2 linked regions of the Homo sapiens genome follow. The protein of the gene in region 1 interacts with the protein of each later gene in a pairwise test. Each region holds a gene or a part of one and is shown on either strand. Other genes may lie near its edges.

The links.
Region 2: the proteins of FAM161A (region 1) and TRIM69 interact in binary tests that used the Homo sapiens proteins (3 or more experiments, as listed by UniProt).

What each region holds. Positions count from the first base shown.
Region 1 is NC_000002.12:61,829,600-61,837,355, forward strand, and holds part of FAM161A (protein FAM161A), read right to left. Parts: intron 6,511-7,756; coding exon 6,411-6,510; intron 1-6,410. UniProt on the Homo sapiens protein: Involved in ciliogenesis.
Region 2 is NC_000015.10:44,760,150-44,767,527, reverse strand, and holds part of TRIM69 (E3 ubiquitin-protein ligase TRIM69), read right to left. Parts: intron 298-7,378; coding exon 1-297.

The DNA.
Region 1 (7,756 bases):
AGAAGAATAAAGAAACCCCAAACCTAGCTCTGAATGCATTACCAACAGTATATTCTGACTTCAGCAAATTAAATATATAAGACATTAAAAAGACATTAGTCAAAATTTGTGCCAGTAAGCCTTCATCTGACTTTGGTTTAAAATTCAATTTAACATCTTCTCAGTTAATTAATCCTGTGATTTCCAAGAAACAGGACAACATAGTTTATTCTGTAAAGAATCACAGGCATATTGTGTTAGGGAATCACTCAGCAGCAGCGAGACCACAATTAACTCCTATAAATGGGCAAAGCAAATAGCTGCAAGCAAATTTATTAAAAACCAGCTGTTAATTAGCAGCAATAGTTCCAGCAAAATAGACTGCAGCAAAAAATGTACTAAAAAAAAAAAGCAATGGCGATTCACTGCCATGGTAACTCTGTTTATACTTTTTGAGAAGTTAATGAGAAGACCCCTTGATATCATTCATTGAAAATGAGAATAAATGGAATTGGTGAGAATGGATGATTGTCCCTGTTATAAAGGCTTATTAATTGTCTACCCAGGGTTAACATTTTAGTAGGGGAATGAAAATGGTAAGGCGAAGGTATAATGAATGGTTCTGCAAAGAGCAAGGCAGAAAAATCAATCAAACTATTATGATTCAGATAGGAAATAAAGGTTCCACCTGGCATTTCACCACCAAGGATGGTGAAGGGCAGATCCAAAAATTATTTAGGAAGAAAATTTGACAGGTCTCTCAATGACCAGCTGAATGGGGAGGAACTGGGTACACACAGATATGAAGATGAGAACAGTAGGCCAGGCACGGTGGCTCACTCCTGTAATCCCAGTACTTTGGGAGGCCGAGGCAGGTGGATCACTTGAGGTCAGGAGTTCAGGACCAGCCCGGCCAACATGGTGAAATCCCGTCTCTACTAAAAATACAAAAAAAATTAGCCGGGCATGGTGGTGTGCACCTGTAATCCCAGCTACTCAGGAGACTGAGGCAGGAGAATCACTTGAACCCAGGAGGCAGAGGTTGCAGTGAGCCGAGATCACGCCACTGCACTCCAGCCTGGGTGACAGAGTAAGACCCTGTCTCAAAAAAAAAAAAAAAAAAAAATGAGAACAGTAGACACTGGTCTCAAACTCTTGGCCTCAAATGATCCTCCCCCCCTCAGTTTCCCAAAGTGTTGGGATTACAGGGTGAGTCACTGGCCTAATTTTTCTAATATAAAGATATTTCTGGCTGGATGTGGTGGTTCACATCTGTAATCCCGGAACTTTGAGAGGCTGAGGTGGGCAGATCACAAGGTCAGGAGTTCGAGACCAGCCTGACCAACATGATGAAACTTCGTCTTGACTAAAAATACAAAAAAAATTAGCCAGGCATGGTGGCACGCGCCTGTAATCACAGATACTCAGGAGGCTAAGGCAGGAGAATCACTTGAACCCGGGAGGCGGAGGTTCCAGTGAGCTGAGATCGAGCCACTGCACTCCAGCCTGGGTGACAGAGTGAGACGCCTTCTCAAAAAAAAAAAAAAAAAAAGATATTTCTTAGACAAACAGCACTATAATAAATCATTGCTGCATATGTGTTCAATATTGGTCTTCCCAAATAATACTTCATACTTTCTTTCTTGTATTATAGTATCACCCATAATGATTCCTTTAATTTAGCATTTATTTACTTTCCTTTTTTTTTTCTAGACCTGTTGGAACAAGCCTCGCATGTCACTAACACAAATATTAGTATTCCCAGGTTATGTACCTGCTCCCTGGAATTGAGGTTAACAGAAAAAAATAACATATCAATCTGACCATTCCCCCAACCTCCAAAACAATCATATTCACAATTTTGTCTCAACACACATCTGTAATTGCTGCAATTGTGTGTCTTGAATGACTACATTTGTCTGTCTTGTTTCTATCTGACTTTAAGGGTCTCAAGGGATTTTCTGATATTCAAAAAGCATTTGTTGAGAAGGGGGCAGGAAAACAATATGATAGATAAAAGAATCACATGAAGACAGTCAGATCTGGGTTTGAATCCTGGTTCCCCTTCTTCTGGTTGTATCATCTAAGCCTCAAGATGTCCCTCATCTGTGAAATAAGAACCTCACAGGAGCAGTGTAAAGGTCAGTTAAGACAATGCATATAAAGTGCTTAGTGGAGTGCTTGTCTTTCAGCAACCTCTCAAAAAACATTATAAACCAGCTTCCAAATAGCTTTGTGCAGTCTCCCTCTTAAATGCAAACAGACAACCAAAGATAATCTGAGGAAAGCTTCTAATATGATAGACAAGAGGCTAAAAAAGAGAAAAAGGAACTTGAAGGAAACAGAGACAATATCACCAGTATGCTCAGAGATATAAAAGACAGGCTGGGTGTGGTGGCTCACACTTGGAATCCCGACACTTTGGAAGGCCGAGAAAGGAGGATTTCTTGAGCCCAGGAGCTTAAGACCAGCATGGACAACACAGTAACACCCCTGTCTTTACAAAAAATACAAAAATTAGCCTGGCATGGTAGCTTGTGCCTGTAGTCCTAACTACTTGGGAGGCTGAGGTGGGAAGATTGCCTGAGCCCAAGGGGTTAAAGTTGCAGTGAGCCGAGATCATGCCACTGCACTCCAGCCTGGGACAGAGTAAGACCCTGTCACACACACACAAAAAAAAACCAACAACAACAACAACAAAAAACCAACAACAACAAAAAAAAACGTACTGCACCCATGAAAAATACCAAAGGAATATTTAATAAATGGGAAGCATTCTGGAAATTATGTCATTTTTCATTAGGTAAGCAAAAAATGCAGATTTGGAAGATAAATTTGAGGAAATCTTCCAGAACTAGAATAAAATAACAGTGATTTTAAAAGAAATACAAGAAATGTAGATAAATCCAGGTTAATATCTAACTACTCCCCAGTATAACAGTGAAAAAGTCCTAAGATGTCGTTTATGCCAGAGGCCTAGAGCAGGGGTCCCTACCACGAACTAGGTACGGGTCTGTGGCCTGTTAGGAACCAGGCTGCACAGCAGGAAGTGAGCAGTGGGAGGGCGAGCATTATGGCCTGAGCCCTGCCTCCTACAGCGTTAGATTTTCATAGGAGGGTGACCCCTATCGTGAAGTGCTCATGCCAGGGATCTAGGTTGCATGCTCCTTATGAGAATCTAACGCCTGATGATGTGAGGTGGAACAGTTTCATCCTGAAATGATCCATTTCCCGATCCATCCACCCCACCCCACGCAACCCTGGTCTGTGGAAAAATGGTCTTCCATAAAACCAGTCTCTAGCGCCAAAAAGGTTGAGGACTGCTGGCCTAGAGAGAAACCATTCCAAAGTGGAGCAGGACACTTGTGGGCTCCAGGGGAGGAAAGGAACTGATGAATTACGAATGTGTTTAACTGTTTGAGGGGGATTTTTGAGAGCTAACAGAAAAGCCTAAGAATAATAATGATACATACATTGGTGGGGAATGAGGGAAGGTGGGGGGAGGACCAAACAAAATTAGTAATTATTAACACAAGAAAAAATTTTTTTAAAGGAAATGTGATGGGCCAGGCATGGTGGTTCACGCCTGTAATCCCAGCACTTTGGGAGGCCAATGCAGACGGATCATCAGGTCAGGAGTTCGAGACCAGCCTGACCAACATGGTGAAACCTCGTCTCTACTAAAAAATACAAAAAAATTAGCTAGGCACGGTGGCGCGCACCTGTAATCCCAGCTACTCAGGAGGCTGAGGCAGGAGAATGGCTTGAACCCAGGAGGCAGAGGTTGCAGTGAGCTGAGATTGTGACACTGTACTCCAGCCTGGGTGACAGAGTGAGACTCTGTCTCAAAAAAAAAAAAAAAAAGGAAATGTGATGATAATAATATAGGGCTCAGCTGCTAACATTGTTTACTAAGTTATAACACTGAATTCCGATCTAACTGTGATAGAGCTGACTGGGAAACAGAAAGATGGAAAGACGTTGAAAGGGTAGGTAAGTGTGCTTCCGAGAGGACGTGTTAAAACAGCTAAATCCTCACCTACCATATCAATAAGCTAGTAGATAGAGTCTGTAATGAAAAAGATAAAAGAACAGTTGAAAGAATGTTACTGAATAATAAAATACCACTTTGTACCCACTAGGAAGACTATAACAAAAAGACAGACAAAAGCTAGGTGCAGTGGCTCATGCCTGTAATCCCATCAACTTGGGAGGTGGAGGTGGGAGGATCACTTGAGGCCAGGAGTTCACGACCAGCCTGGGCCATACAGCGAGACCCAGTCTCTACAAAAAATAAAATTAGCTGGGCATGATGGTGTGGGCCTTTGTCTCAGCTACTTGGGATGCTCATACTGGGGATCATCTGAGCCCAGGAGTTCAAGGTTCCAGTGAGCTATGATTGTACTACTGCACTGGCCTGGGCAACAGAGTGAAACCCTGTCTCTAAAAATATTTTTCTAAAAAAATCAGACAGACAATAACAAGTGCTGATGCTATTCACAACAGCAAAGACATGGTAACAACCCAGCCCATCAGCAGTGGATTGGATACAGAAAATATGTTACACATACACCATGGAATACTACACAGCCATAAAAAAGAATGAAATCATGTCCTTTGCAACAATATGGATACAGCTGGAAGCCATTATCCTAAGCAAACTAAAGCAGAAACGGAAAACCAAACATCATATGTTCTCACTTACAAGTGGGAACTAAACACTGGGTACACATGGAAATAAAGATGAGAACAACAGACACTGGAGAATATAAGAGGGAGAGTGGAGGGAGGAGGGCAAGGGTTGAAAACCTACCTATTGGGTACTATGCTCATTACCTGGGTGATGAGTTCAATCATACCCCAAACCCCAGCTCACACAATATACCCTTTTTTTTTTTTTTGAGATAGAATTTTGGTCTTGTTGCTCAGGCTGGAGTGCAATGACGCAATCTCAGCTCACTACAACCTCCGCCTCCCAAGTTCAAGCAATTCTCCTGCCTCAGCCTCCCAAGTAGTTGGGACTACAGGCACGCAAAACCATGCCCGGCTAATTTTTGTATTTTTAGTAGAGACAAGGTTTCACCATGTTGGCCAGGCTGGTCTCGAACCACTGACCTTAGGTGATCCACCTGCTTCGGCCTCCCAAAATGCTGGCTGGGATTACAGGTGTGAGCCACGGCGCCTGGCATACCCTTGTAACAAACCTGCGCATATACTCCTTGAATTTAAAATAAAAGTTGAAAAAATAAATAAATAAATAAATAAGAAAAACCCAGAAGCAGTGTAAAGAGCAAAAACAAAAAACTTGCAGTTCAGAGCTGGAGATAATGTCTTTGAGCCAAAAGCCAATCACTTTATGATTATAATGTAGAACAGCTTAAAATGATTTTTCCCCCTAAAGTTGAAATAAAGATGTTAAAAAAATCCATCACTTAAAATGAAAGGCATTATATAAAATTATATCTAGATCAGTGAGCAAAAAGATTACGTAACTTTGAGAGACTGTAATGTGCAGATTCACCCACAATACATGTCCACTGTCCTCAATGAGTCACTGGCAAGTACAGTTCTGTAACTATGCTCATCTGTTACAGGTAAATTCTCCAACTGTCTATTGTCCAATTATAACAGCTTCAAATTCACAATTTAGAACCTGTAACCTCCAGTGATTTTGTCAATTGTTAAGCCATGTCACCCATACAGATGCCTCCCCTATGGGACAAAGGAGAAGATGACCTAAAATTGACAAATTTCCCTTAAGGGAAAGGTTGTAAAACCGGGCATAAACTTAGTAAAATCAGGGTCCACTGTCCGTAAGACTAGTTTGTTTTTCGTATAGAAAGGAAGTTCTTTTAGTAATTGCAGAGAAGATTGAATTACAGACTCACTTAAAAAAAAAAACTAGCAGAAATAACTCTGATTCAATTAGCCATTTTGTTTCATTTTTTTAATTCTTCAAAGACCTCCAAGTGATATCATGAAGCCTCATCTTAATATCTAACCAAGTTTGTACTGAAAAAAGACCAGCCATTAGAAAACAGCTTGCAAAATTATTTTACGAACTACTGGATTGGCATGTTATTTATCAAACTTATGTGCTTCATCAAAAAGATTCAATGTTCAGATTATTTTTTTGAGATGAGGTCTTGCTACGTTGCACAGGTTGGACCAAAACTCTTGGGCTCAAGCAATCTGCCCACCTCAGCCTCCCAAGTAGCTGGGACTACAGGTGCACACCACCACACCTGGCTAAATGCTCGGATTTAAGCAAAATTACTCATTGGCTGATATGATGAAGCCAACACAAACAACAATAATGTATCTCAACAGTTATATAACACATAAGAAAAATGGACTGTAAATTTAGGAGCTAAAGCTGTAAAAAAAAAAAAAAAAACTGACGATAGCTCTTAAATTCCAATAAACACAACCTGAGCAACTCTTTCAAATAGCAGTGGCCTCTTTTTTAATTTTTCTTCTCTTTCTTCTAGTTCTCGTTGGTATTCTCTCATCCTTTCCTTTTCGCTCTTTCTAAAATTAAAGAAAAGCAATGGAATTTTAAAAGATCATCTAAGAAATAAGAACTTACATATGTAACATTTAACTTATCAACTTGTACAAAGTCAATGAAAAAAAAGAAATAACATTTAGCTTAGCTGACAAATCAGAAATTATAAGCACAGTTCACAGTTTACCTCGATTCCTCTTCTATACCGGTTAATTCTCATGGAATGCAGAATAAAATCCTAGGTTCTGAGATCACACATATTATGCTCTAGGAATAGTCTGGACACTTTAATTTCTGAAATCCTCAAGGCATAAATATTTTAAGGGACTTCAAACTGCCCTGAAAAGATGAATGAAAGTCCTCTTGTCTCATTTATAAGTGTATAAAACCAAGAAAATTTTGGAACAAATTAGCTATCTTCTCTGTAAGGAATTTCTCCTGAAAACAAGACTTTGCTCTTATTTTTTATTATTATTTTATTGTTGTTGTTATTTACTTTTGTTTTGAGATGGAGTCTCATTCTGTTGCTCAGGCTGGTGCGGTGGCACAATCTCAGCTCACTGCAACTTCTACCTCCTGGGTTCATGCAATTCTCGTGCCTCAGCTTCCCGAATAGCTGAGATTACAGGTGTGCACCACCATGCCTGGCTAATTTTCTGTATTTTTAGTAGAGATGAGGGTTTCACCATGTTGGCCAGGCTGGTCTTGAACTCCTGACCTCAGGTGATCTGCCTGTCTTGGCCTCTCAAAGTGCTGGGATTACAGGCATGAGCCATTGCGCCTGGCCTATTAATTTTGAGACAGGTTCTCACTTTGTTGTCCAGGCTGGAGTGCAGTGGTGCAATCATGGCTGACTGCAGCTTTGACTTCCTGGGCTCAAATGATCCTCCCACCTTAGCTCTCGAGTAGGTGGAACTACAGGGGCATGCCACCACACCTGGCTAATTTTTTTAAATTTTTTGTAGAGATGGGGGTCTCATTATGTTTACCAGGCTGGTCTCAAACTCCTGGGCTCAAGCAATCTTCCTGCCTTGTACTCCTGAGGTGTTGGGATTACAGATGTGAGCCATGGCATCCAGCCTTTGCTGTTATTTTTTTCCCCTAAATAAGATCTCCTACAGGTTAGTGGCAAAGTTAATTCAATGGGAGCAAGTCAAAGGAGAAGTAAAGAGCATGGGAATACAACATAAAGAGAAACAGGAACCAAAATATATAAATTTACCGTAAGTGTTCTCACTGTTTGAGCAAGATCCTATAATAAATTAAACT
Region 2 (7,378 bases), on another chromosome or scaffold:
TCCTTAGTCTTAAAAGCCAGAATCCTTGCTCAGGAGTTAGAGGACAGCTGCCCTTCCGAATGATGGATTCTCTGACAACTCCAACTGTCCATTTTGTCTTCTTTGCTACTTCTACTTCCCAGTACCACTTTCCAGAGGTGAAGCCTCTTGAGCCCAGTACAGCCACACTTGAGTCAAACCTCTCAGGATCATCAGGCATTATCTTCTTAATGTCACCATGCCAGACGCTGGTTTGGCTTTTGGAGAGCACCAGATTTGGGTGAGCTGTTTTAGGGTCCAGAGTTAGTGGAGACAGGCCTAGTAAGAAAATAAAAGAAAGCAGAGCATGGGAGAAAGGGGGGTAAACACAAATTCCCACAGTAAAAGATAGTATTTCATATTCAATAGTACTTTATCTCCCCATACACATAGACTCTTAGACAGGCAAGCAATTACTTATATGCTTTTTTTTTTTTTTTTTTTTTTTTTTTTTTTGAGGCAGACAAGGTTGCCCAGGGCTGGAGTGCAGTGGTGCGATCTCGGCTCACTGCAACCTCCGCTTCCTGGGTTCAAGCAATTCTCGTGCCTCAGCCCCCCAAATAGCTGGGATTACAGGTGTGTGCCACCACACCTGGCTAATCTTTGTAATTTTTTAGTAGAGACAGGGTTTCGCCATGTTGGCCAGACTGGCCTTGAACTCCTGGCCCCAAGCAACCCACCTGCCTAGGCCTCTCAAAGTGCTGAGATTACAGGCATGAGCCACCGCACCTGGCCACTTACATGCTTTTTATTGTTTGGGTATCCATGTTACTATATTCTAGACATTTTTATATTTAGGGTAAAAATCAGGGTTTACTCAGAAGTAATTTATGCTCTACTAAAGGAAACAATACAAATAATATAAACCTATACTAATAAATATAAGAAAATACAAATGCCAAAGGGGTAAAAATTAGGTAAGGATGTTCTAGGAAAGCTTTCTGAGGAAGGTAAGTATTCAGTTGTATATACATGAGATGTATTTAGGATGTTTTGAATAAACGGAAAGAAAGAAATGGATTAAAAACAGTCCCCTGTGTGGAAGAGAACACAAGAGCTTGCCTGTTAGACACAGGCAAGACTGAACTAACTGGTACAGAGTTTAGAGGACAATAGTGAGAGGTTTATTTTGGTTTAACAGATAATGAGATTTTTGAGATCTAGAGTGGTTTATGTCATTGCTACTCATAATGTGGTCCACATACCATGTGGTTAACAGTCTCGGACAAAGATAGTATAGAAATTAACAGTAAACTTTTAAAAACTTTCATAGCAAATTGACAGTAATTTTATGTCAGTTGAATCTAATAATTACAAAATTGGGCTTGTACTTTGTAATCTTTGCTTTTTTTAATTTTACTTTTTCAAGTAATTTATATTGTATTCTACAAAAGTATCAGTCCATGACAGATTGAGATTTTTTTGATTGGCCCTTCATCACAGATAATTTTACAAGCATTGGTTTAGACAATTCAAAGGGCAGCAGTATAAAAAAGAATATCTAAACTAAATGAAGAGAGGTTGAAAGCTGACCAGCAAGAGGATGACACAAATTCCAGATGTGAGATCATTGGACCTTGACATGAAATTTGATAAAGGAGACCTAATAGCTATGTGTGTGCACACCATGGACACAGATACATGTATGCATGCATTTGTTGTTATTGGATTTATTTATCCTTGGAAGCAGAATCAATCTAGTTTCTCTCTCTCTGTTTTTTTTTTGTTTGTTTGTTTGTTTTGTTTTGTTTTTTTTGAGATAGATTCTTGCTCTGTCCCCCAGGCTGGAGTGCAGTGGCACAACCTCGGCTCACTGCAACCTCCGCCTCCTGGGTTCAAGCAATTCTCCTGCTTCAGCCTCCTGAGTAGCTAGGATTACAGGCATGCACCACCACGCTCAGCTGATATTTTTTGTAATTTTAGTAGAGACAGGATTTCACCATGTTGGCCAGGCTAGTCATGAACTCTAGTCTAACTCTATCTTCTCAGAAAAGCCTGAGTCTTTTCCATTATCCCAGGGACTTCTCTTTCCAACAAGAGGCTTTGAAGAATTAAGAATCTTGAATTTTTCCATATAGGCTAAATCCCTATCCCCTTACATATCCCCATTCACTTTGGGTTGTTAATCTTTCTGATGTGAGGACTGGGTTTTCTTTGGAGGTACCATAAAGACTTTTTAGCAACGTTTTGGAATCCCACTCTGCTCTCTTTGCTAAGCCTCTGACACATCTCTAGCTAGTTCAGCCTGCACTGGCTCTGAAGATTCCCATGAGTCAGCTTTTTGTCCTCTCTTTCCTTCTCATGCCACGTTCATATAACGAAAAGTTCTGTCAGCTCCACCTTCAAAATATATCTTGTGCCCAAACACTTCTGACTACTTCCAGAAATATCACTGGCCTGGAACTACTGCAATAGCTTTTTACTCTTCTGTTTCCTCTCTTGCCCATCTGCACCCTATTCTACACATATCATGAATGAGATCAAGCCATTTCCCTGCTCAGCATACTCTTATGTTTACCATCACATCTGAGATAAAATCCAGAGTCCTTATAGAGGAAAAAAGAGCCACATGATTTACCTACCTCTCTACTTCATCTCCTACCACACTTTCCCTCATTTACTTTGATTCATCCACCCTTGTCTTTTGGCAGTTCCTTGAACATAATGAAGATCATTCCTACTTCAGGGTCCTTATAATTTCTTCCCTTGTCCTAGAATGCTTTTTCCCCATATGGTTCACTCCACATTATTTGGGCATTTGTTCATGCAAATATTTTAAATTGAAAAATTCCCTAAGCTAGAGTAGGCAAACTACAACCAACAGGTCAAATCTGACCCACTGCCTACTTTGTAAGTAAAGTTTTATTGGAGCACATTTATGACCATTCATTTATATGTTGTCTGTAGCTTCTTTTTCACTACAAGAGCAGAGTTAAGTAGCAGCAACAAAGACCATACACCTGCAAGGCCTAAAATATTTACTCTTCAAACCTTTACAGAAAAGTGCCAGCTCCTGCTCTAAAGCAACAGCCTAATTTATAAGGCTGGCAGAAAAGGAGAATATATGGATCTACAAAATAAGCAAAGACTTAGAAATAAAAAGTATGGAATATATTTTACAAAGGTCTGACCACAGTTACCATAGAAAAACAATTTCCCACTCTGTATAGAGGGAGAGTATATGGATAAATAATACATTATTAATAAATAGTCATATATTAAATAAATCTCATTTGGTTTTCTTGATGTAAAATTATACCAAAAATTTAAAAATCAGTTTGCATTTTAAAAGATTGCTAGAAGTGAAGTTTGGCTTTACAGAGCAAAGTATACAGGAAGAAAAACTCTGTCATACCAAGGCAGCTACAATTTGCTAAGCAGAGTAACACAGAGGAGGGAACTTCACAGAAACTTACAAACATCTACAAAGGGATTCTCTCAAGGCTGTGGCTGAGTACTAATCTGCACATGCATGCAGTGAAACTCGTCAAGGCCAGAGAAAGAACCTCCAGAAATCAATAGACTGAACAATTTCTGGAGCTCACACAAGGCTGGGAATAATTTTCAATCTTGCCAACCAGAATGGAAAAATGTCGTAATATGTCAACGTCAGGTAGGGTAATCAGAAGGGTATATTACTTTAGAAAATGGGCTAAGTTAGCCCTAGATTAAAGGCTGCTCTTGAGCCACTCTAACTAGGCTTTATTTAAGCCTCAGAAGGAACAAAATGATGTCATACCATGTTAACTGCATGCCAGAGTTAAATTCAATAGAACTGAAAGAACTACAACAAAATCCAGCAAATACAAAATTCACCAATATGAATTCATCAGTACAAACAATATGAAATTCATCATATTTGGCATCCAGTAAAAAATTACCAACCAGAAGAGACAAATCTCCAGGGCAGCAAAATTTCAAATAATTTACATTAATACACTACCCTCAGGGAGAGGGAGCATAACTATCCCCTCCTTAAGCGTGGGCTGTGCACAATGACTGCCTTCCAAAGTATACAAGTATAGAAGGAGGGAAAAAGAGTACAGTGGAGAAACCTGACAGACACTTCCTCAGCCAGGTGATTAAAGTCAACATCAATAGTCATAAATCATGTTGACGGTATGAACACTTAATGTGATGTGATGACAATGACACTTTAATGCTACTGTCTTCCTCTCCCAATTAATAACCCAAATTTTATGAGGAAAACATCAAACAAATTGCAATAGTGCAGCATCCTTACAAAATATATGACCAGTACTCCTCAAAACTATCTAAGTCATAAAAAATAAGGCAAGCCTGAGAAACTGTCACAGCCAAGGGGCACCTAAAGAAAATGACAACTTAGTGTAATGTGGCACCTTAGATGGAAACCTAAAACAGAAAAATGACATTAGGTAAAAACTAAGAAAATCTAAAGGAACTATGGATTTCAGTTAATAATGTATCAATTTGGTTCATTAGTTGTTAAAAATGTTAAATCTAAGATGTTAATAATAGAGAAAAGTGAGGATGGGGCATATAAAAAACTCTATACTATCTTCTCAGTTTTTCTGTAAAATTAAAAAATCTAAAAGTGTCCTAAAAAATAAAGCCCATTAAAAAGAAAAAGATTACTAGCCATACAAAGCAGCAGGAAAATATGACTCTCAGGAGAACAATCAAACAATAAAATCAGGCCCAGAAATGACAATGATGATAGAATTAGCAGACAAGGATATTAAAATGGATAAATGTCTTCCATTTTTTCAAGAATGTAGAGGAAGGCATGAACATGGTGAGAAGAGATAAGAAAGATATAAAAAGACCCAAATGAAACTTCTAGAAATGAAATGTATATAAAATGAAAATATCTTGAACAATATTAACAGAAGGTTAGACCATGCAGAAGAAAAGATGAGAACTTGAATAACAATAGAAACCATTTAAAATAAAGTGTGAGGTGAAAAAAGGCTAAAAAAGTACTGAATATCGATGACATGAGACAACTTGACAATATCAAGTTGTCTAAAATATGTAAAATTAGACTCCAAGAAGGAGAGGAGAAAAGGGGTTGGTAAAAAAGTATTTGAAGAAATACCAGCTGATATTATTCAAAATTTGATGAAAATTATAAACCCTTAGATCCAAGCAGCTCAATGACGCACAAGCAGAATAAATACAAAGAAAATCACACCAAGACCACGTATAATCAAATTGATGGAAGCAAGTGACAAAAAGCAAGTCCTAAAATTAGCCAGAGATGGCCAGGTGCGGTGGCTCACGCCTGTAATCCCAGTACTTTGGGAGGCCGAGGCGGGCAGATCACGAGGTCAGGTGATCGAGACCATCCTGGCTAACATGGTGAAACCCCATCTCTACTAAAAATGCAAAAAAATTAGCCGGGCGTGGTGGCGGGCACCTGTAGTCCCAGCTATTTGGGAGGCTGAGGCAGGAGAATGGCGTGAACCTGGGAGGCGGAGCTTGCAGTGAGCCGAGATTGCACCACACTCCAGCCTGGGTGACAGAGTGAGACTCCATCTCAAAAAAATAAATAAATAAAAATAAATTGAAAAGGCAAGCCATGGAGTGAGAAAAAATATTTAAGAAACATATATCTGATAAAGGATTTGTATCCTTTACAACTTAATAATACAACAATTTAACAAAAATATAGACAAAAGTTTGAACACAACCAAAAAAATATATGAATGGCAAGGAAGCACCTGAAAGGACGCTCAACAGGATTGCTCATTAGGGATATGCAGCCGGGCACCACGGCTCATGCCTGTAATTTCAACACTTTAGGAGGCTGAGGTGGATGGATCACTTAAGGCCAGGAGTTCAAGATCAGCCTGGCCAACATGGCAAAACCTCATCTCTACTAAAAATACAAAAATTAGCTAGGCATGGCAGTGCGCGCCTGTAATTCCAGCTACTGGGGAGTCTGAGGCGCAAGAATCACTTGAGCTTCGGAGGCAGAGGTTGCAGTGAGTTGAGATGCACCACTGTACTCTAGCCTGGACATCAGAGTGAGACTCTGTCCCACCCTCCCACCAAAACAAGAGATATACAAATTAAAACCACAATAAGATACTACTATACATTCAATAAAATGGTTTAAATTAAAAAGATTGACAATATCAAGTTTTGGAAAGGATATAGAGAAACTGGGATTTTCACTAATTGCAGGATGGATAAAACTACCATGGACTACCCCATGTCCATCAACTGGGAAATGAATAAGTAAACTGAATAAATAATCATGATTATTGATACATGGAACAACATAAGTGCTCAAAAAGCATTATGCGGCCTGGCGCAGTGGCTCATACCTGTAATCCCAGCACTTTGGGAGGCTGAGGCGGGCAGATCACGAGGTCAGGAGATCGAGACCATCCTGGCTAACAGGGTGAAACCCCGTCTCTACTGAAAATATAAAAAAATTAGCCGGGCATGGTGGCAGGCGCCTGTAGTCCCAGCTACTCGGGAGGCTGAGGCAGGAGAATGGCATGAACCCTGGAGGCAGAGCTTGCAGTGAGCAGAGATGGCACCACTGCACTCCAGCCTGGGCAACAGAGCGAGACTCCATCTCAAAAAAAAAAAAAATTATGCTAAGTGAAAAAAACCAGAAGACACAAAACACTACATAATGTATGCTATCACTTAGACAAAAATTTAGAAAAGACACATTTAAAGTGAAATAAAACATGTCAGTGAATGTTAGAGGCTGAGAGTAGAAGGAAGAGATTGATTTCAAAGGGGCATGTAGGAACTTTTTGGAGTGATAAAAATCTTCTATATTTTGATTATGGAGAGGTTTACCTAAGTGTATATATACATCAGAACTCATCAAATTGTGCCCTTAAAATTGGATAATTTTACTCTATGTTAACTATATCTCAGTATAGTTGATTTTTCTTCAATGTCAATTACCTGGAAAAATTTGCGATTTTTCATTAAATCAGGGATATATTTGTGATTTCTCATTAAATCAATAACCATAAACAATAATAATAATGATGAGTCTATGAATTCTATAAAAACTCTATTTAGAATTTTATTTCTATAAAGATTTTTATTTAGAACTTTATTTGATGTTCTTGAAATGCCATGTGTGTTATTTTATCTTGCTCAGTCCTTTGGTATCTACAGGAACACAAAAACTTAGTGTCCTTCTTAGGTATGTTTATTTAAATTATTGGTTTTCTTCTGAAGCACTGAAGATCTAAACAATCTTCTAAAATGTTCTACGCTATGAACATCAAGCACAAAAGAAACTGTAAAGACCCAGTGTACATAAAAAGAGTATGTTCAGAAACCTCCTCCTTCTTCAGAGAAGCCCCTGGGATTCATATAGCTGATTTAGCAAAACAAGATA